Linked DNA regions of Homo sapiens: regions 1 and 3 are each reported to be linked to region 2. The links are microRNA targets in miRTarBase. Many come from high-throughput screens and were not tested one by one. Region 2 holds a microRNA gene; each other region holds the end of a gene's coding sequence.

Region 1 (7,281 bases), not on the chromosome of region 2:
CTCTCTGTCCTCCTCTTCCCACTTTGCCCTCCTCTTGCCTCCATGTCACCTCTCAAGCCAGTCAACTCTGCCACTGGTTGGTGTCCCGTGTACTGTCCAGGGCCCATCACTAGTTCTGGGGGGCCAGCCCTGTTGGTTTCTGTAACAGAGACAGAGAGAGAAGATCCTGGGCAGGAAGGAGAGGGTAGTCAGAGCTATCTGCCCAAAGAGTACTAAGAGAGGATTAGGCCCATCTGATCATGTTACCCCAAGGGGTAAACTCTAGACCCCACAGCTTCAGGCCCAAGGTTTATGTGGCCTGCAGAAGTAGAAGAAGTAGAGGTATTTCTTTTTTTTTTTTTTTTTGAGACGGAGTCTTGCTCTGTCACCTAGGCTGGAGTGCAGTGGCACAATCTCGGCTCACTGCAACCTCCGCCTCCCGGCTTCAAGCAATTCTCCTGCTTCAGCCTCCCAAGTAGCTGGAATTATAGGCGCCCACCACCACGCCTGGCTAATTTTTTTGTCTTTTTAGTAGAGATGGGGTTTCATCGTGTTAGCCAGGATGGTCTCGATCTCCTGACCTCGTGATCCACCCGCCTCGGCCTCCCAAAGTGCTGGGATTACAGGCATGAGCCACTGTGCCCGGCCCAGAAGTAGAGGTATTTCTAAGGCTACTGGTCTATGCAGATTCTCCAAACTTAAGTATGGTTTGGGCAGAAGCTGGGAGATAGAAGTTTGAGAACATGCTGGCTGCAGCAGCAGATCCGGGTTTAAATCTTGGCCAAGTTAACCAAAGCTTTGAGTTGTCTTCCCCTCTCCAGGCCTATGTGTCTGTGAAGTGAGGGTATACACACTGGCATGCTGTAAGAACAGGAGATAGCAGAGTGCTGAGTACACAGAGGTACTTAAAGGTGGGAGCCATTACTTTCGCCATGAGTCAAGTTATCTTTGGCTGCGATCATTGATGTCTCTCTTTCCTGCTCTTTTACCTCAGCTGCCCTGTGAGCTACAGGACATGGTTCGGAAACATTTGCACAGTGGTCAAGAGGCCGCCAGCCCAGGTCCTGCTCCCAGCCTAGCCCCAGGGGCTGTGGTGCCTACCTCAGTCATTGCCCGAGTGTTAGAGAAGCCGGAGTCTCTACTGCTCAATTCAGCCCAGTCAGGCAGCGCCGGGCGCCCCTTGGCTGAGGATGTCTTTGTGCATGTGGACATGAGTGAGGGTGTCCCAGGTGATCCAGCCAGTCCCCCGGCCCCTGGCAGCCCCACCCCACAACCCAATGGGGAGTGCCACTCTCTGGGTACTGCCAGGGGCTCCCCGGAGGAAGAGCTGCCCCTGCCAGCCTTTGAGAAGCTGAACCCCTACCCAACCCCGTCTCCACCACACCCACTGTATCCTGGCCGCAGGGTAATAGAGTTCTCTGAGGATAAGGTTCGGATCCCCCGCAACAGCCCCCTGCCCAACTGCACTTACGCTACCCGCCAGGCCATTTCCCTGAGCCTGGTAGAGGAGGGGAGTGAGCGGGCCCGCCCCAGCCCAGTGCCCAGCACCCCTGCCTCAGCCCAGGCCTCACCCCACCACCAGCCCAGCCCAGCACCCCTAACACTCAGTGCCCCAGCTAGCTCTGCCAGCTCTGAAGAGGACCTGCTGGTCAGCTGGCAGCGGGCATTTGTGGACCGTACTCCACCACCTGCTGCTGTGGCCCAGCGCACAGCCTTTGGACGCGATGCCCTCCCTGAGCTGCAGCGCCATTTTGCCCATAGCCCCGCTGACAGAGATGAGGTGGTCCAGGCACCTTCTGCCCGACCCGAAGAGAGTGAGCTTTTGCTACCCACAGAACCTGACTCTGGCTTTCCCAGGGAGGAAGAAGAGCTGAACCTGCCTATCAGTCCTGAGGAAGAGCGCCAGAGCCTGCTGCCCATTAACAGGGGCACAGAGGAGGGGCCAGGCACTTCCCACACCGAGGGCAGGGCCTGGCCACTCCCCAGCTCCAGTCGCCCCCAGCGCAGCCCCAAGAGGATGGGGGTTCACCACCTGCACCGCAAGGACAGCCTGACCCAGGCCCAGGAGCAGGGCAACCTGCTCAACTAGGGCCCCTGCTGGCCTTCCTGCCATTGCTGCACCAGGACTGCAAGGAGTCCCCACACCTTGGCAGCTCAGGGTCCCCAGTCCAAGCCCTTGACCTCTCCTCTATCCAGACCCGCACAGCTGTTTCCTGTGTGGATGGGGTCAGGTTGTGGGCCATGCCAGGCCTGTCAGCTGCGTTGACTGACTGCAGCAGCTTGCCTCATGGTTTTCCCTTTTTCTTAGAATATTTATTCTTCAGAGGTAACATGCAGTTGGGTCTCAAGACCTTTCCTCCAATCAGCCCAACCCAGCCCAGACTGGGCTTTTCTGGGGAGCTGAGGAGTTTATCAGTATTCATCTTCCATCCTTTCATAGTCACAAGTTTTGTTATTTTGTTTTTTTTTGGGGGTGATGGTGTAATTGTTAACCTCATTTCCGTTTCCTACCTGTTTGCTTCCCCCCCCAGTCCTCCGCATGAGCTGTTGCCCTCCAGGGGCCTGGCACAGCTGGCCTTGGGGACGAGGGAGAGGACTGATTCAGGGCCCCCTCAGCTGTCTCCTCCCTCCCTCTGGAAAGGAGGGTGGGGCTCAGGGGCCTCAAGCTGGGCTCTGTGTGAGGCCTGGCCCCCACTCCCAACCTTGGCTCTAGACTGTTACTCTTAAGCTTTGAGAAATTTTCACATTGATGACTATTTTAAAATCAAATAAAACTATTTTACTGGTATGGCCTAACTTGTCTTAATGACCTCCCCTCTCCCACTTTTCTCCCCATTCATAAGTATTCCCAGTCCTAGTCTCATCCTAGTCGGCTAGTGACTCCCCCTCGCCCCACTCTGCCTAGGGTTTCCCTAGGCACAGAGCATCAGGGAGCGGGAAAGGGGGCACCTTAAGTAACCTTAGCAGGGTTCCTGAGTCTTCCCTCGGAGGCAGGGACCATATCTTTATGGGGCTAGTGTAAGGTGTTGCCTCAGAGGCCTGGGTTCTAGGCCTGGCCAGGCCTATTTTGAGATCCTGGACCAGGTCACGCAGCTTAGAGCTTGGGCTGTGCGATGCTACTGCCCCCTAGTGGTGCTTACTGGTAGTTCCAATTCCTCCCCTACTGCCGGCCCCAAGTGACTACAGCCACACGACAGGTTGTGGAGTTCATAAAATCTTTTCCGAGCCAGCGGGTTGCAGCCAGAGCTGCCAAGTTCAAAGGCATTGCCGTGGGTTCAAGTGCCCCCCAAGGCTGTTGCTCAGTCACAGCTTCCAGAGCTTCCTTCCCACCACACTGCCAGGAGCTGCCAGAGCCCCCATGCAGCCCCTGACCCCAGTTCCCTCCCAAGTCCCAGGGCCTGACCCTGATATCTGGGGCAAGGTGCTCGGGACATAGATAAGTGAAATGGTGTGCAGAGGCCCAGTGGAGAGTCACATCTCGGTCTCAGCCAACAGACTGTCCCCTAGTCCTGACGTCATTAGCACCATCTGAGAGCTGGGATCTGTGGAAGGGCAGAGAAGTGTTCAGACCACCATTCCTTCCTCCAATGGGGACCACAGATAGGTGAGAGCCTAGGTTCTGCACACCCACTCTCCCTTGTCCCGAGCCTCTTCCAGACCTGGCTCTGATCAACCCTCTGGGTTCTTACCGCTGGGGCACATCCAGGAGCTGCTGCCTCTCTGGTGGGCAGCAGGCTCCCGCCCTCTCTCCCATTCCTGGGTGTCGCCAGCCCCTCCTGCCACTTCCTCCTCCTCCTCTCCCTCAGAGAGGAGGTCACAGATCTGTTGCTGCAGCTCTGGGCTAATGCTGTTCTCAGCCAACACCAGGCTCCGCAAAGCTGTGGGGTAATTTTCTACCATGTCCAGCAGGGTCTGAAGTGGGGAAGAATATGGAAAAGGATGAACACAGTTAAGGCAGGTCCTCAGACCTCAACCTGCCATGCCTTAGGTATGTCATCAGACACATAAACTAACCTCCACCCCATCCCCTGGCCGTGCCCAAACATGACGACTTCCCACCTGAGCTGACTGGTTGGTGAGCCCTGTGCCCTCCAAGTCTAGGACCTCTAGGGTACGACTAGAGGCCACAGCTACAGCCAGCATTCCTGCCACATGGTCACCTGGGGAGACAACACACGTGCACACATTCATACACATGCCTGCTAATCCTTACAGATAGCTTCCCCATTGCCTTAACAACTTTAGATACTAATCCCTGGCCAAGGAAACATGGACAATTGGTGGTGGTCAGGAAGGGATCATTGTGATTGGTGAGTGAAGGCACGAAGCAAGTTAGGCCCACGGGTGGTGACTGATGTTTTGATCTATTTGTTGGTCACCTGGTCCGCCACAAAGCTATCTCCTTGACCCCTGGGGGCTCCCGTTTCTCTTCCCTCTCCCAGTGTACGGGTTACCATGTCAACTGATGGTCCCAGGCTCTTGGATAGGGCATGAGGCAGTGACAGCCCAAGGGGGTATTCTTGAGCCTCACCCAGGGGGTTGTAATCCAGATTGAGGACGCGGACCTGGGAGCTGTGGGCCACGGCAATGGCAAGGCGGCTCCAGCCCTTAGGGGTGATGCCAGGGTTGGCACTCAGCGTTAGCTCCTTCAAGCCTGGGCAGCATCATAGCAAGAAACCAGAATAGGGAGGGTTAAGCCCTCCTCCAGCCCTTCCCCACAATCCCTGTGTCTCTGGGGTGTCCCTAGTGGCTGGGCACCACCTTACCCCCACCATAGAGGTCAAGAGCCATTAAGGAGGCCCATGCTTCCTCTGCCTGCCCCAGCCTGGATTCCTGAGTCTCCATGCTGCCCCCCGTCCTGCCCCTTCCTGAGAGGAGTAGAAAGATGTTCTCGCCCACATCATCAGAGCTCTGGGGCCACACCCCCTTCCCTCTGCATTTCGATTTTCATCACTGCCACACTAGCCCAAGCCCTCAACAGGGTCCTGCTCACCAGATTTGGCCCCATCTGGGGGCAGGAGGCCACAGATGAGGTTGATGGCTTCATCACCCAGCATGCAGTCCCCCAGGTCCAGAGCCACGAGGGCAGGGTGGAGGGCCAGGGCTGGGTTCAGCAAGGCCAGCCCCGCATCTGTCAGGGGGCTCCCATGCAGGCTGGAGGAGAGTGAGAGAGCAGGGTTACTGCAGTCCTCCGCACTATCTACATGGGAAAGGGGCACTTTCACTTCTGTCAGCCCTAGGTATGGGGAGGGCAGTCACAGCGCTTGAGAGGCCTGGAAAAGGAGAAGGAAAGTTCTAGATTCTCAGGGAATACAGATAGAGGGAGAATTCGGTTTGTTTTCTGGGGCAGGGATCCAGGACATTGCACAGGGAGGGGCAGAGAAGGGGTGGGTGGGTGGTGGACCGGAACTCTGCAGTGGGCAGGGCTCTCGTCCCCACGGGGATATTCCCCCTTGGGAACCAAGGAGCTGCCCCAGTGAAGTAAATGCAGATGATTAGGTGGGGAGGTACGGCCCCCACCTCATGTCAGGAACTGGTGGGTATCCCAACACGGCTAGGGTCGCGCGTGCAAAGTCCAAGCATGTGCTTGGAGGGTGCTGTGAAGGCATGGGCCGAGGCACGGTGTATGTGCATAAGGCATGTGAAGGTAGGATGGTACTGGAAGGAGTGTGGAGGAACAGGAGGTGCCAGGGGAGTGTATGGAAGGGTGCAGTGCCCGGGACCCCCTTGCGAGGGGGCGCACTCACAAGAGGGACTGGATGGAGCGGTTGGTCCGCAGAGCCTCAGCCAGCTGCTTGATGCGGCTGGGGCTGGACACGACGCCCAGGTTAAGGTTGAGCTGCGCCAGGGACGTGGCCCCGGCCAGGGCCCGGCAGATGCGGCCAAAGTCGCGGTCGCAGAGGCGGCAGCCGCGCAGTGAGAGCAGGCGCACGGCGTTGTCGCGAAGGCCGCGGCAGATGTCCCGCACCTCGGCGCCGGACAGCGGCTCCCCCGAAATCTGGATGGAGCTGGGCAGCATCGTGCCCACGGCTGGGCCTCCGGGTACGGGGCCGGAACGGAGGTTGGTGGGGCCGCGGGCGGGGCCGGGGATAGGGCCGGGGTCGGGGCCCCGGCAGGGGTCGCGGGCGGAGTGGGGCCGGGGGTGGAGGCGGCGGCTGTGGCGGAGGCTGCGGCTGCGGCGGAGGCTGCGGCGGGGGCGGAGAAGAGCTACCGGGACTGAGCCGGAGCCGGCCAGAGGTGCGGAGGCGTCCAGGGCGCGGGCCGGGCTGAAGTGGGGCGGCGCTGGGGCGGGGGCGGCCCGCACGGTCCGTGTCTGGGCGTTGGGGCGGGTGCGCGTTCCGGGGGTTGGGCAGGCGCTGCTCGGCGCTTGTCCTTGTCCCTCGCGGTCGCGGCGGCGGCGGCGGCAGCGGCAGCGAGCGGCTCAAGGGCTTCGGCTTACCGGTCTCGGCTAGGAGGCCGTACCCGCTCCCTCCTTCTCTGCCGCCCGGCTCCCCCCGACCACCCCGCGGGCCTGGCCGCACGGCTGGCAGAGAGAGCCTGAGGCGGGCGGCTGGCGGCAGCTCCGGCTCCAGCTCCAGAGAGCGAGCGGGCGGCGAGTTCCCATGGCAACGGCCGCGTCACCGGCGCTCGCCCCGCCCCCTGCCCGGCCAAGGCCACGCCGGCCCGCGAGGTTCGCGTACACTGGGTGGTTCGGGGCAAGGAGCTGGGAGCGATAGGCCGCTCTTCCCTTGGGAGTGGGGTCAGCCAACTGGCAGGCGGCAGGCGGCAGGGCTGAGTGGGTAGGGCTGACGGGGAGCGGAATGGAGGCACGCCCCGTGGAGATGGCGTTGGGCACGGTTACTGCTGCTTCTGCCCATTCTTCCATCCTTCCCCGTTCCTAAGGTCCATACCCCCGCCGGAATCCAGGGCACTGTTCCCTCCTATTTGGAAGGCCCCAGGGCCCTTTCATCCGCGCCGCGCCTCGCTCCCGCCCCCGTGACTCGAGGCGCAGCGTGCGTGGTGATCCCGGCCCATGGGGACTTCCCCGCTTGCTCCTCGCCAAGATGGCGGCCTCATCAGGGAGGCCCCAGGGGCCACGGCTGGGCAGAGCCAGCTTGAGCTGCTGGGGAGAAGGGTACCCCATAGGGTCCCTAGGGCAGGGGAGCCTCAGATAGATGCAAGGTCCTGGTGCCACACCTTCTCAGGTACGCAGGGCACTGTTGACATCTGAGGGTGTGTCCGTGCCGCGAGACTGGGGCAGCCAATACAAAGAAGGTGCCAGGGCCAGGGCCCTGGAGCACTGGTGAGGACGTGAAGGCGGCT
Region 2 (7,046 bases):
ATGAGCCCTGGGGCCTGGGATGGGAAAGGGGAAGTGGTGTGGCTCATAGCCACTCTTGTCCTCTCTGACAACATCAAAACCTCCAAGCAGGGCACCCCTAGAAATATTTTTGCTGTTTGCAGGATGGAGGTGAGCGTTTGAGCACCCAGGGTGGTTTCTCTAATTTCTCCTAGACCACAGAGTCAATGAGACATCGTCGACAAAGCCCGGGCTTTGCAATAAGATGGACTGGGTTTGAATCCTGGCTCCGCCCCTTACCGGCTGTGTGACCTTGTAGCTTGGCAGTGGCTGTTTAACCACACTGAAACTCAAACTACTTAACCTCTCTGAATCTAATCTGTTTCTTCATCTGTAGAGCCAGAGGGTGGTGGAGAGTATAGTACCTGCTCGGCAGAGCTGTTGTGAAGAATAAATTTGACAACCTGTATGTGCTGAGTAAACGACAGCTAGCATTATCCTGTGGGAGAGAACCAAGAGGAGAGAGGTTAAAGTTGCACAAAACCCTTTCCCCAACACACACACATACACATGCATGCACGCATGCACGCACACACGTACACGCATGCACACACGTGTGCGTGCACACACACACACATACCCCCCCATATCCTGCAGCCATAGCCAAAGGGATCCTGTTAAAACATGTGTCCTCTGTGCAAAATTCCCGGATGACCTGTCACCTAGAGTCAAAGCCAAAGTCCTCATGAAGGACAGGGGCCCTCCTCGGCCTGCCCAGTCCTTACTTTCTGTCTCTGATCTCCTGGACCACCATGCTTCCCCTTGCTCCCTGGGCTGGGCCCCTTGCTGCTCCCAAAGTCCCAGGCATACTCTTGCCCTAGGGGCTTGGCACTGCCATCTCCACTGCCAGGAGTGTACCCTGCCATCTTTGCTCAATGCCATGGTCTCAATGAGACCTCCTTTGGCCACTCAGATGTTTTTTTGTTTTTTTTTTTTAGACAGAGTCCAGATCTGTTGCCCAGGCTGGAGTGCAACGGGCAATCTCAGCTCACTGCAACCTCTGCCTCCCGGGTTCAAGCAATTCTCCTGCCTCAGCCTCCCAAGTAGCTGGGATTACAGGCACCCACCACCACCCTGGCTAATTTTTGTACTTTTAGTAGAGACAGAGTTTCACCATGTTGGTCAGGCTGGCCTCGACCCCCTGACCTCAGGTGATCTGCCCGCCTCGGCCTCCCAAAGTGCTAGGATTACAGGCATGAGCCATCGTGCCCGGCCTTAGCCACTCAGTTTTAAAGGACAGCCCCTCCCCACCCCCCACACATTTCTCAGTCCTCCTCTCTCTTTTTTTAAAATTAAAATTAAAATTAAAATTTTTTTATTAATAGAGATGGACTTTCACCATGTTGGCCAGGTTAGTCCTGAAGTCCTTGCTTCAAGTGATCCACCTACCTTGGCCTCCCAAAGTACTGAAATTACAGGTGTGAGCCAACATGCCCGGCCAGTCCTCCTCCTTTCTTTTCCCTGCTTTATTTCTTCCGTAGCCTGATCATGACCTGACACGTGTTTTGTTGATGATCTCCACTCGCATGAATATAAGTTCCACAAAGGCAGGGGGTTTGTCTATTATGTTTACATTCATAGTAATCCCCAGTGCCTAGGCATAGAAGTAGGTGCTTAAGGTTTGTTGAATGAATACCTGAAAGATGGCAGGAACTGAAGTTCTGGCTGATGCAGGAAAGGGGAGTGGGCCATGAGGTGAGGACATCATCGCTTTCCTTTTTTGCCAAATGAATGGGTTGGCCTAGACACCCAAGAGACCATGAACCCCTGGGAATTGCGTACATCATTGGGTGAGTCTCTGCCTCCATGCATTTTTCTGGAACAAGGGTCCCTACCTTCTTGCAGACATTGAAGAGAGCCTGTGACCTCCCAGAGGCGCTAAGCACCCTTCCAGCTCTGACATCGTATAGTTGGCTCTAATAGGTTTGAATCCTTGTTTTCTAAGAACCTAGGATGCTAAGATCCCATCATCTTATTCAGCAGCCAGGGGGGTCCTGGCCCCAAGGCAGGGAGGGGAATCCAGAGGGGACTTTGGCAGGGTCAGTGTGGAGGGGGCGGTAGTGCCTATGGGGACATTGGAGGGGAGACAAAGGAGACTTGTATATTACGTGTGCCGTTTTCTTCCTTTTATTTAAAAGAAAATAGGTTTAAAGCAAGTTTGATGAAATGTGAACAATTGTCAATGCTGGGTACTGGGCATGGGGGTGTTTATCACAGCGCCACACTTTTCCTATATTTTAAGAAATCCTTTAAAAAATACAGAGTTGGGGGTGGGCACTAATAGTTATAGCTCATGATTAGTAACAGAGAGGCAGTTTCTGGGGCCCTGGGGGACCTGCACTTTGGGTGTTTTTGCAGTGTGTGTGGGGGCAGAGGGGCTGGCCAGGGTCTGGGACCCATGCCTGGAGCTGACAGAGTCCTCTCTCCTCCCCTGCTTCCCCCTCCCAGGTCTCAGTTTCCTGCCTTCCTGGGAAGTGGGGAAAGGCTGAGAGGCCCCGTGCTGGGGGTGAAGCTAATTCATTAGTTACGCCTCAACAAGGACCGGGTGCCTGCAGTGCCAGCGTGATTCATCATGATGATTGCCCCACTGCCAGCCTGCGTGGGCCTGGAACGCCAGCACATTTTACCTTTACCCACTGAGAAGGGCCTGGTGGGAGGTGAAGGTACAGGATCTGCCGAGAGCAAGAAAAAGACTCTGAGAAAGAAGAGGGCTGGTCCTCCATGCTCTCGGCCCCAGGAAGCTCTGCCAGGCTGGTGCCGGGGTGGAGAGGCTCATGTGGGCTCATGTGGTGCTGCCTGTGCTGATGGAGCCCAAGAGGGCAGCCTGGCGCTGGGTGCCAGCCTGAGCATGTGGCGAGGCTGGGCTGCTGAGCCTCCTCCTCCACAGCCAATGTTCCCTCAAACTGCTTGGGGGTGGGGGGAGGGACTCATCCTCATCCCATTAGCCTGGCTGGGTATTCCCTACCTTTCTGGTCTCTGAGAGACTTACCTCTTCCAAGAAGTCCTCCCGAATGAGTAGAAGGGAGAGAGCTGGATTGGAACTTAAGTGACATCTGGGAGGAGCCTGAAGCCCCTCCGGTTGGGGCTGAGACTCCTATACCCTAGGTCTGGTGTCTGGGTTCCACCTGGGTCCTCTACCTTGGCCTGGATTCCTGCTTTCGTTTTGCCAGTCTCTCCCAGGATGGGGGTGCATGGCTGGTTCGTGGCTCAGAGCAACATCTGCCTCTGTGTCCCCCCATCATCTGTCCGCCCCCTAACACCTCTTGCCATATTAGAATTGCTATTGCTCTGTCCTTTCATTCATGTATCCAACAAATATATATTATCTGAAAAAAAGCATGTGCTGAATAATTTCATTTGTGTGAAATTCAAGAACAGGGAAAACTGATCCATAAGGATAGAGGTCAGGATCATAGTTGCCTCTGTGAGGTGGGGATTGACCGCAAGAGGCTTGAGAGAACTCTTGGGTTGATGGAAATGGGACAGGGGTGTGTACATTTGTCAAAACGCATCCAAGAAGACACTTACGATCTATGCATTTCACTGTATGCAATGTTTGCCTCCACTTTTTTTGTTAAGTTTTTTTCAGCAAGGCGCAGTGGCTCATGCCTATAATTCCAGCACTTTGGGAGGCTGAGGCAGGTGGATCACCTGAGATCAGGAGTTCGAGACCAGCCTGACCAACATGGTGAACCCCTGTCTCTTCTAAAATACAAAAATTAGCTGGGCGTGGTGGTGGGCACCTGTAATCTCAGCTACTTGGGAGGCTGAGGCAAGAGAATCGCTTGAACCCAGGAGGCGAGGCGGAGGTTGCAGTGAGCCAAGATCACGCCATTGCACTCCAACCTATGCAACAAGAGCAAAACTCTGTCTCTAAATAAATAAATAAATAAATAAATAAATAAATAAATAAATAAAAATTTGCATGGAATGTCTACTGTATGCTCTAGAGCCTGTGCCAGCAGGGAAGGAGATGCCCAAACCTCCCTGGCTGGGCAGCTTACTTTCCAGTGGGGATGGTTCCCTTCCTCCCGTTGCATTGGCAACTGCTCTCTGCCCTTGGGCTGTCTTCCATCCCCCTTCCCCTGCAGTGGGGATGGCAATGGGGGTGGGCCAAAGGGCAGCGTGCTCTCCTGAAGTCAGTCCACTCAGCCAGTTACATGGGTCACACCAGCCGGGTTCAAGAGAAGGCAGGAGGCAGGAGGCTTGGAGCCCGAAAATTTGGCTCCCGGGCTGCAACCTCTATGCATTGTGTGACCGTAAGCAGGGTGCCTAATCCCCGCGAGGCCACTTCTCTCATCTTTCATGTGGGATTATAGTGCTGTCTTTGTAGCTTTGTCCAGAGAATCAGAGGCTCTGTTGTGAGAAAATTCATTGCTGGAGGTGGAGTGAACCTTGTTTCCATCTATCGGTATGGTTTATGGTTAGGAACACAGGCTCTGGAGTCACACTACCTGGCTTCGAATCCAGCTGCTCATCAGCTGGGTGACCTTGGGCACTTCACTCAGCTCAGACTGACCCAGCTCAAGTCATGTCTCTTTGACCCTCAGTTTCTCCATCTTTAAAATCGGGGTGATGAGGGTGTCTACCTCATAGGCTGTGCCAAGGACTCAACGCAATGCTTTCAGCATAGTGCTGGGCACACGTGGGCTCGAAGCCAGTGACAGCCAGTGCTTTTCTGCCAGGAGCTCCCGCAGGAGGGCTCCGGATGGGAGGTGGGGGGAGAAGGCAGGGGGGAACTGCTGCTGGTGGTAGCAGGCGAAGGAAGAAGAGTCATGGAATGAGAGTGGCCATGATTGGTGGCTCAAAGGCGTTCACGTGTCCCAGTCCTCTGTCCACCGCAGCCACACACAGACTTTGAGCGTCGGTGGAGGGATCCTGGCAGGAGAGAGGGGTGTGAGTGTAGCAATGAGGAAGCTGTAGGGCAATTAGGCGGGGCGGAGCCAAGCCCTGGGGCCCGGTAAAACCAGCAGATGTGAAAAGGGCCGGACAGTAACACTGTTTCGAGTTACTACACTGAAGTGATCCCAGCAGGTAGGCCGGCCGCACGCCGCTGGACGTGAATGGCTCGCAGTGACCGCGCCCCTCAGCCCCTCCTTGTGAGCCTCTAGTCCAGAGTCTTTGATCCACCGCCAGCGTTTCCTTCGCCTTCTTGGACCCGCGGCTCTGGGGCGCACACAACCGCACACCAAACAGCGTCGGGCGTCGGGTCTCAGTGCCAGGCTTGGCCGGGGCGGGGAATCTCTCGGCTTGTGCTTGCTCCGCGGTGGGCTGGATGGGCAGGTAGGGGGCGGGCTCCGGCGCTGGGACCCCACTAGGGTGGCGCCTTGGCCCCGCCCCGCCCCGCCCTCCCTCCGCCTCATTGGCAGCCGCACGCGCGTCGGGGTTGCCAGGGCGACGGGTCGCTAAGCTGCGAGTCAGCGCGAACCCTAGCCAGTCGGCCTCCGGCGGAGGCAACGGGGGAGGCCCGAGGGCGGGCGGTGGAGCGCGGCGCGCGGCGGCGGTGCCCCAAGTGGGTGCCTCCTCCCGGCCCCGCACGGCCCCCCTCCCGGCGCGGGGGAAGGCCGGGGCGGGGGGCCCGGGGGCCGGCGCGGCTCCGGCACCGTCGGGGCGGCTGGGGGGCGGCCGGGGCGGGGCGATGCCTGGCGGTGGCAGTGGCGGCGGCCCCGGCCGGGGCCCGTGACCATGGGCATCGCCGAGTCCACGCCGGATGAGCTGCCGTCGGACGCAGAGGAGCAGCTGCGCAGCGGCGACCAGCAGCTGGAGCTGAGCGGGCGGCGGTTGCGGCGGCTGCCCAGCGCAGTGTGCGCGCTGAGCCGCCTGCAGAAGCTGTATGTGAGCGGCACGGGGCTGCGCGAGCTGCCGGAGGAGATCGAGGAGCTGCGCGAGCTGCGCATCCTGGCGCTGGACTTCAACAAGCTCGAGCGACTGCCTGACGGCCTGTGCCGCCTGCCGCGCCTCACGCGCCTCTATCTGGGCGGCAACCGGCTGCTGGCGCTGCCCGCCGACTTCGCGCAGTTGCAGAGCCTGCGCTGCCTCTGGATCGAGGGCAACTTCTTGCGGCGCTTCCCGCGGCCGCTGCTGCGCCTGGTGGCGCTGCAGTCGCTCCAGATGGGCGACAACCGGCTGCGCGCGCTGCCGGCCGAGCTGCCGCGCATGACGGGCTTGCGCGGCCTCTGGCTCTACGGCAACCGCTTCGAGGAGTTCCCGCCCGCGCTGCTGCGCATGGGCCGCCTGCACATCCTCGACCTCGACCGCAACCGCCTGGGCGGCTTCCCCGACCTGCACCCGCTGCGCGCGCTGCGCGTCTTCTCCTACGACCACAACCCCGTCACCGGGCCCCCGCGCGTCGCGGACACCGTGTTCCTCGTGGGCGAGGGCGCCGTCGAGCGCATGGCGGAGCGCGACGAGCCCACGCCCCGGCCTCCGCCCCGGCGCCCAGCGCGGGCCTTTGAGGATGAGGAGGAGGAAGACCTGCTCATAGGCGGCGCTGGTTCCCGGGCTCTGGGCGCCCCCGGGGGCAGCTTCCGCGCCCTGGAAGCCGCTCCAGGACTGGGCACCTGAGCCTATGTTCTGGCTGATGGGCTTCAGCCACTCTGAGAGGAGGGGCTCTAGGAAGCTTTGGCTGGTTAGGCCTGCGGGACTGGTGGGTCCCTACTTAGGTCAATGGAACGGCTACTTTTGGCGAGTTGCCGGGCACAGGCAGGGCTGGGGCTCATCTTCAGACACTCCTAGGTAGTAAGAGGACTGACTATACCCTGGCTGATCTGTGGGCAATTGTCAGACCAAGAAGTCTGGGCTGGGTCCAGTCCCCGATGGAGCCACTGATAACAGAGGCACCAGCTTCCTCCTGGAACCAGGGTCTCTGAGGGCCACAGAATTGTCACGTCTCCCTGAGTCTGGATGCAGGGCACCCAACACCCTCCCTCTTTCTGGGGTTTGGGTCTCCTAGGCCCACCCTTTCTAGGACAGGAGCCGCTACCTCTGGGATGGACTGCGTGCCTGTGTGGGGCAGGACTGCCCTTGCG
Region 3 (7,281 bases), not on the chromosome of region 2:
GCCCCAGGCTGTGGGGCCCCTGCAGCTGTTGGCAGCCGGGCCAGGCAGCCCTGTGAAGGTGGCAGCTGCAGCAGGCCCTGCCAATGTGCACCTCATCAACTCCGGGGTGGGCGTGACTGCCCTGCAGCTGCCTTCGGCCACTGCCCCAGGTACCCCCATCTCCCTCCCTCAGGCCTAGGTGAGAGCCGGGGAGGGGTGCAGTCATCTCGGAGAGGGAGGGGCTGTCCCTGGGCTCCTGGAGGGCATCTCATCCCTGGCAAGTCCCAGTGCCCCAAGGCCCACCACAAGGCTCCCTCCGCCCGCCCTCCAGCTGCACAGTCTCCACTTCTCTCTGGCTTGGCCTGCTCTCCTGGCTCTCACCTGCGCTCGGTCCCTCTCTCCCCACAGGAAACTTCCTCCTGGCCAACCCTGTGTCTGGCAGCCCCATCGTGACGGGTGTGGCCCTGCAGCAGGGCAAGATCATCCTCACCGCCACCTTCCCCACCAGCATGCTCGTCTCCCAGGTCCTGCCGCCAGCCCCCGGCCTGGCCCTGCCACTGAAGCCAGAGACGGCCATCTCCGTGCCTGAGGGAGGCCTCCCGGTGGCCCCCAGCCCTGCTCTCCCAGAGGCTCACGCCCTAGGCACCCTTTCTGCACAGCAGCCACCCCCCGCCGCTGCCACCACCTCCAGCACCAGCCTGCCCTTCTCCCCTGACTCCCCTGGCCTCCTGCCCAACTTCCCGGCGCCCCCACCAGAGGGGCTGATGTTGTCACCCGCGGCCGTGCCTGTCTGGTCAGCAGGGCTGGAACTAAGCGCAGGAACAGAGGGGCTGCTGGAAGCGGAAAAGGGGCTGGGGACACAGGCCCCCCACACCGTGCTGAGGCTGCCAGACCCCGACCCTGAGGGGCTGCTCCTGGGGGCCACCGCAGGGGGTGAGGTTGACGAGGGGTTGGAAGCTGAGGCCAAGGTTCTGACCCAGCTCCAGTCGGTGCCTGTGGAGGAGCCCTTGGAACTGTGACCCAGTGTGGCCCCGTGGCCTCTCCCGACATTGGTGCTGAAGACGCAGGGACAGGAATGGGAGGGGGGAGCCCCAGAAATGCGGTTGCTGAAGACCCCAGTCACCACATCCTTCTGCCTGGGTGGCCTCTCCAAGCCCTGGTGGTGCTGGGGGTTGTATCCCCGGCCACCTCCTGTCCAGGTCTCCATCCCCCTTTGGATGGGAGGCCTCTCTGTTACAGCCCTCCCCATGCTGTGCCCTGCCATATACGTGGGGGACTCAGGGTCCTGACTCAGGGGCCCTGCCCCCTCCACTTGGTACTAGCTGTAAGCGGAACACCCTGCCCCAGGGCCGGACTTCCAGCCCCCAGAGCCCTCTCCCTGTCACTCCCTGAAACACTATTAATAGCTCTGCCGATAGCTGGTGTTGTCACAACTGCCTGGAATCCGAAGGTGGAGGACAGGCAGCCCCGCGCCCCTGAGACTGGAGACCCTCCCCAGTGTGGCATTTCCTGCCAGGGGCGGGGGGTGGGGCAGCTGTGGGGAGACGGGGGTCTTCCTTCACCAGCTCCCCTCGACTCAAGCCCTTGTCCTCATTATCCGGCCCAGACCAAAGATTCCCTCATCCCTGGGGGCAGCCCTGCCGCTGTGTCTCCTTTGTATCCTAAATCTTTATTTTTCTAGGACATGTTATGCCTCCATTTTCAATTAAAATAAAGTTATCGGATTACACCACCACCAGGGGTCTGGGGTGCCTTCCAGTGTCTGTCCAAAGCAGCGCTGAACACAGAGCCCACCTCGAGACCTGGCCTTCCCATTGCTGCCTCCCGAGGGGAAGAGGGGTTTGCATTCAGATGCACAGAGTGGCTGGGGAGGGGGTGGCACTGAGGCCTCTTGCAAGCCACAGGCCTCCAGATGAGGGTGGACGGAGCACCCCAGTGGGGCAGCAGGGGGACGCAGGAGGGCCTGCCCTTGTCTCTCTTGCTGGTAACAAAGGTTCCACTTGCTTTATTTTATTTAAAACAATAAATAGTCTAAAAATAGAACAGGAGAGGGAGGAGTAGGGTGAGGTGAGCATGAACAGGGTTGCAACCGAGTGGCTCTGGGGTGGGGAAGGGAAGGGGAGAGGGGTGGGTAAACTTCACCTTCCGACACCCCGCATTTCATTTTGGGTTTCCTTCCTAAGCCTGGGGGAGAATCAAGGCAGCTGTGGGTGACTCTGGTGCTCCAGGCAAATGTGCCCAGCGGTTGGGGCTAATCAGTGCCCCCCTCCCCAGTCCCATGGGACCTGCATTCTCAGGGGCTGGAGGCCCAGGAGGGACAAGTTCATCGATGGGTCCTGGCTTCCAGCAAGAGCCGCGGTTGCCATGAGGGGTGAGGGGAGCGAGGCGAGGGGCCGCCCTCTCACTGGAGGTGCGGGGGCAGCGGCAAGGCCTTCTCGGCCAGCAGCTGGTAGAAGGGCTTTGGCGTCTCCCAGTCCTCAGCCTCGCTGCTGGAGCCGTCCTGCTTCACGATGCGGTTGTGCTGGCGGCTGAACCTGCGAGCCTTGGTGCTGGGGAGACGGTGGCAGGATGGCCTGGCTTCCTCACTCGCCTCCCGGGCATCCCTGTACCACTCCCAATCCTGTGTCCCCGCAGGGGCCTGGGCCACCGTTTTAGCCTCTATTGGGCGAGCCTTGGGTCCACCAAGTCCCAGTCAGTAAGATGGGACTCGGCCAAGGGCTCTGGGATGTGTTCAAAGTCAGGAGCCAGGGCAGGTGGCAGCTCCTTGAAGGTGGAGGGGACAGGATTCGGGGGAGTCGAGGTGGCCAAGCGACAGGAAAATCAGACCACGCCCCGAGAAAGTCGTGTGGCAGAGACAGCAAAAGAATTGAGGCAGGGGTCCATGTCTGGGCTCAGCTGTTCCCCAGCTTAGCTGTGGTGGGGTACCCCTACACCTGTGTCACCCCCAAGGGTTTCATAAGAAGGGGCAACACGCAAATTCCTCGGCCCAGTCTCCCATGCCATGACACCCAAGGCTCCAGAGACAGAGCAGGGTTCCGGGGTAGGGAGGCTCTTCCACCCCCCACCCACACCTCGGGGCCGGAGCCTCTCACCAGTATGGCCTCCGCTCCTGCTGGGTCATCACCCGCCACAGCTGGGCCAGCTCCTTGGTGGCAGCTGTGGAAGCGGTTCCAGGGCAGGATCTGGGACAGGAAGGAGGAGGAGGTAAGGAGAGGTCTGCAGGACACCCTGACTGAGAACTCAGACCCTTCCTAGCCTTGTGGGTCTACAAGGCCTCCAAGACCACCCTCTGGAGCTGAGGAGGCAGAGGGAGCTGGACTCAGCGGCTGTTCACAAGGGGGCACCTGGTGTCCCAGGAGAGTGCAGGGGACCTGTGGGCACCGCTCCTGGCCCCCACATCTGGATCTTCCTGTAAAGGAACTAGCTGTTTTCCACTGTGGCTTGGGGGGGGCCTCCCCATCCCCTGGCTCCAGGCCTGGCAGTGACTGGTTCAGGGTTGGCACCGGATCTACCAAAGTCAGTCCCAAGGACTTTGCTTAAAACCTTAGAGACCTCTCCTCCTCCCGGGGTCGCTTGGGTGGGGGACAGGACCCGAGCCTGTGCCTCCTGGGGTGACCCCACCTGCCAGAGAATGAAGCCAGCCCGGAAGACAGAGGAACTGGGTGAAAAGGACAAAGATTCCAGACAGCCTGTGTGAGCCCTAAAACCAGCTATGTCTCAAGGCAGTCTATACCCGCCCTTGTTTTCTAGGTTATATAAGCCAATTCATTTTCTTTTCTTGCTGGGCCTGATGGCTCACACCTGTAATCCCAGCAATTTGAGAGGCCGAGGCAGGCAGATCACTTGAGGTGAGGCATTCGAGACCAGCCTGGCCAACATGGTGAAACCCTGTCTCTACTAAAAATACAAAAATTAGCTGATGGCGCGCCTGTTATCCCAGCTACTCAGGAGGCTGAGGCAGGAGAATCTGAGAGGCAGAGGTTGCAGTGATTTGAGCCCGGGAGGCAGACATTGCAGTGAGCTGTGATTGTGCCACTGCACTACAGCCTGGGCAATAGAGTGAGACTCTGTCTCAAAAAACAAAACAAAACAAAAAAAACTCCTTTTTTTCTGAAGTCTAAAGCCTGAATTGGGTTTCAGCGCTGACAATGGATGGACCCTGTCCAATACAATGGGGCCGGGTTCAGTTCTGGGGAAGAACTGTGGTCCACGAAGGGTTTGTGGGGTCTCGGAGGGGGAAAAAGTGTCAGACAGTTGTGAGGAGCGGCATGGCCAGGCTGCGGGCAGAGAACGAAGCCAGGGCCTTCCCCAGGGCCAAAGACGACCCCCTACCCACCGGATGTACTGCTTCCGGTTCATCCTGCAGAACATGATGAAGCCGTTGACACACTTCTTCTTCATCTGGGGTGGGCAGGGGCCTTTCTTCTTCTCCTTGGGCTTCACAGGGGCCCTGGCTACTTGGCCCTTCGTGGCCTTTTTCTCAGCTGCCAGCAGGGGTGAGGCCAGCCGGGTGGGGGTCCATGTGGTGTCTTCGTCCTCTTCGCTGGAGCCCGGCGTGCCCACAGGGTTGGCCTGCATATCCTGGGGGAGGGAGAGGGTGGTGAGAGAGGAAGGAGGCCCTGCTGGCCCTGGCATGCGGCCGTGTCTCTCACCTCTCGCTGCTTCCACAGGGGCTCCGAGTCGCTGTCCTCCGAGCTGGAGCTGGAGCTGGAGCTGGAGCTGGAGCTGGATGGCGCCTTGCTGTTCCCGCTCAGCGAGAGGTAGCAGTGGTCCAGCGAGACTGAGGACCGGTGCAGGCTGTGGGACTCAGGAGGGTCTTTGGGGGCCTTGGAGGCTGTGTCCTGGGGCATGATGAGGGAGAAAGATGGGAGGGGAGACAAGTGGTGCCCCTTCATCCCCCCAGTACTGCTTTTCTAGGACATAACATGAGCATTAGCAGCAGCTCAGATTGGCAGGGTGTGGTGGCTTACGCCTGTAACCCCAACACTCTGGGAGGCTGAGGCAGGAGGACTGCTTGAGGCCAGGAGTTACAGACCAGCCTGGGCAACATAGAGAGACCTTGTTCTACAAAAAAAAAAAAAAAAAAAAAAAAAAAATAGGCCAGGCGCAGTGGCTCATGCCTGTAATCTCAGCACTTTCGGAGGCTGAGGCAGGAGGATCACCTGAGGTCAGGAGTTCAAAACCAGCCTGGCCAACATGGCGAAACTCTGTCTAAAAATACTAAAAAATTAGCCAGGTATGTTGGTGGGCGCCTGTAGTCCCAGCTACTCTGGAGGCTGAGGCACAAGAATCGCTTAAATCCAGGAGGCGGAGGTTGCAGTGAGCCGAGATCGTACCACTGCACTCCAGCCTGGGTGACAGAGTGAGACTCTGTCTCAAAAAAAAAAAAAGAAATTGAATTAAGTTAAATTTAAAAATAATTTAAAAAACCAGCTGGGCATGGTGGTGTGGGAGGGTCATTTGAGCCCAGGAGTTCAAGGCACTGATCTATGATGGTGACACTGCACTCCAGCCTGGGCAACAAAGCAAGACCCTGTCTTTCTTTCTTTCTTCCTTTCTTTTCTTTTTTTTCTTTTCTTTCTTTTTTTTTTTTTTGAGACGGAGTCTTACTCTTGTCCCTCAGGCTGGAGTGCAATGGCACCATCTCAGCTCCATTCTCCACCTCTTGGGTTCAAGTGATTCTCCTGCCTCAGACTCCTGAGTAACTGGGGTTACAAGTGCCCACCACCACGCCCAGCTAATTTTGTATTTTTAGTAGAGAGGGGGTTTCATCATATTGGTCAAGCTAGGTTTAAACTCCTGACCTCAGGTGATCTGCCCGCCTCAGCCTCCCAAAGTGCTAGAAGTATAGGCATGAGCCACCACGCCCGGCCACACCCTGATAATTTCTTTTTCTTTTTCTTTTCCTTTTTTGAGACTGGGTTTCGCTCTTGTTGCCCAGGCTGCAGTCCAACGGTGCCATCTTGGCTTACTGCAACCCCCGCCTCCCAGGTTTAAGCGATTCTTCTGCCTCAGCCTCCTGAGTAGCTGGGATTACAGGCACGTACCACCACACCCGGCTAATTTTGTATTTTTAGTAGAGATAGTATTTCGCCATGATGGCCAGACTGGTTGGTCTCCAACTCCTGACCTCAGGTGATCTGCCCTCCTCGGCCTCCCAAAATAGTGGGATTACAGGCGTGAGCCACCACGCCCGGACACTTCTTGTATTTTTAGTAGAAATGGGGTTTCCCCATGTTGGCCAGGCTGGTCTTGAACTCCTGATCTCAGGTGATCCGCCTACGTCAGCCTCTCAAACTGCTGAGATTACAGGTGTGAGCCACCGCGCCCAGCTTAGTCTTTTGATTTCAATTTCCTTATCTGTAAAATGGGGCCACAGGAGACCCTGCTTCGTAGAGTAGTTGTAAAATGATGTGGGAAGCTGGGCACGGTGGCTCACACCTGTAATCCCAGCACTCTAGGAGGCCAAGGTGGGCGGATCACTCGAGGTCAGGAGTTGGAGACCAGCCTGGCCAACATGGTGAACCCCCATCTCTACTAAAAATACACAATTAGCCGGGTGTGGTGACAGGCACCTGTAATCCCAGCTACTAGGGGGGCTGAGGCAGGAGAATTGTTTGAACCCGGGAGGCGGAGGTTACAGTGAGCCGAGATCGCACCACTGCACCCCAGCCTGGGCGACAACAGGGAAACTCAGTCTAAATAAAATAAAATAAAATAAAATAAAATAAATGAATAAAATGATGTGAGTTTTCTTTTCTATGGGCACCTGGCAGCTTTTATCCTTTTTTATCCATTTTGTCCAATTCGTTCCACGTGCCCAGCACAGAGCCGGCATCTGGTGGCCACCAGTGAGCGCAGAGAGGGTCGGGGGGCGGTTTTAAGGATGAGGAGACGCATGAGTGGAAGGACAGATGGGTAGATGGTGGCTGAAAGGGTGAGGGAGTGGATGAGTGAATGAAGCCATGAGTGACGTGTGTGGAAAGACGGATGGATGTGTCTGTGGACAGAGGGGCAGAGGATGTCTACCTTTTCCTGTGGAGCCTCCTGCGTGTAGGCTGAAGGTGAAGACTCCAGATCTAAGCACACTTCTTCAAAGAAAGCCGCTAGGGAGGGAGACCAGAGGGGCAGCCAGAGTGGAAATGCTTCTCCCACACCGCCCAGCTTCAGCCACACCGTCCCTGCTAGCCGGAGTCCCCGTCTCTGGCGTTCTCCTTCAGGATCTCCCACCCTAGGTCCAAATCCCGCTCACAGCCCACTCCCCTGGGTCACCTCCAACACACAGAGTGAGCTCAAGTCCTG

What was found. The annotated mature microRNA hsa-miR-4488 reads AGGGGGCGGGCUCCGGCG and lies in region 2 at 5,304-5,321, shown strand. An mRNA with a match to its seed (bases 2 to 7 or 8) in the 3' UTR can be bound and repressed. Matches are read on the target gene's strand: a 7mer-m8 pairs with bases 2 to 8, a 7mer-A1 pairs with bases 2 to 7 and ends in A, and an 8mer does both.
Region 1: the mRNA of TJAP1 is a reported target of hsa-miR-4488. Seed matches in the 3' UTR shown: 7mer-A1 at 2,667-2,673.
Region 3: the mRNA of SIX5 is a reported target of hsa-miR-4488. Seed matches in the 3' UTR shown: 7mer-A1 at 1,340-1,346.

The regions. Positions count from the first base shown.
Region 1 is chr6:43,503,788-43,511,068 of GRCh38, forward strand. It overlaps TJAP1 (tight junction associated protein 1), which reads left to right. Exons shown (of 11, transcript NM_001350562.2): 11 at 974-2,767. The coding sequence ends at 2,068. LRRC73 (leucine rich repeat containing 73) reads right to left here and starts at 6,559. Exons shown (of 6, transcript NM_001012974.4): 1 at 5,727-6,559; 2 at 4,973-5,133; 3 at 4,511-4,633; 4 at 4,039-4,139; 5 at 3,669-3,891; 6 at 3,181-3,521. The coding sequence starts at 5,998. The coding sequence ends at 3,451. RefSeq lists silencers at 6,137-6,406, 6,427-6,716.
Region 2 is chr11:61,503,296-61,510,341 of GRCh38, forward strand. MIR4488 (microRNA 4488) reads left to right here and starts at 5,301; the gene lies at 5,301-5,362. LRRC10B (leucine rich repeat containing 10B) reads left to right here and starts at 5,454. Exons shown (of 1, transcript NM_001145077.2): 1 at 5,454-7,046. The coding sequence starts at 5,704. The coding sequence ends at 6,582. It overlaps LOC105369329 (a long non-coding RNA gene), which reads left to right. Exons shown (of 3, transcript NR_188527.1): 3 at 2,467-3,354.
Region 3 is chr19:45,759,218-45,766,498 of GRCh38, reverse strand. It overlaps SIX5 (SIX homeobox 5), which reads left to right. Exons shown (of 3, transcript NM_175875.5): 2 at 1-149; 3 at 388-1,714. The coding sequence ends at 998. It overlaps MEIOSIN (meiosis initiator), which reads right to left. Exons shown (of 15, transcript NM_001310124.2): 11 at 7,009-7,085; 12 at 4,632-4,820; 13 at 4,316-4,560; 14 at 3,072-3,161; 15 at 1,958-2,528. The coding sequence ends at 2,381. Among named protein-coding and RNA genes, the nearest start is that of DM1-AS, 4.9 kb to the left of the region's middle. RefSeq lists an enhancer at 2,403-2,957.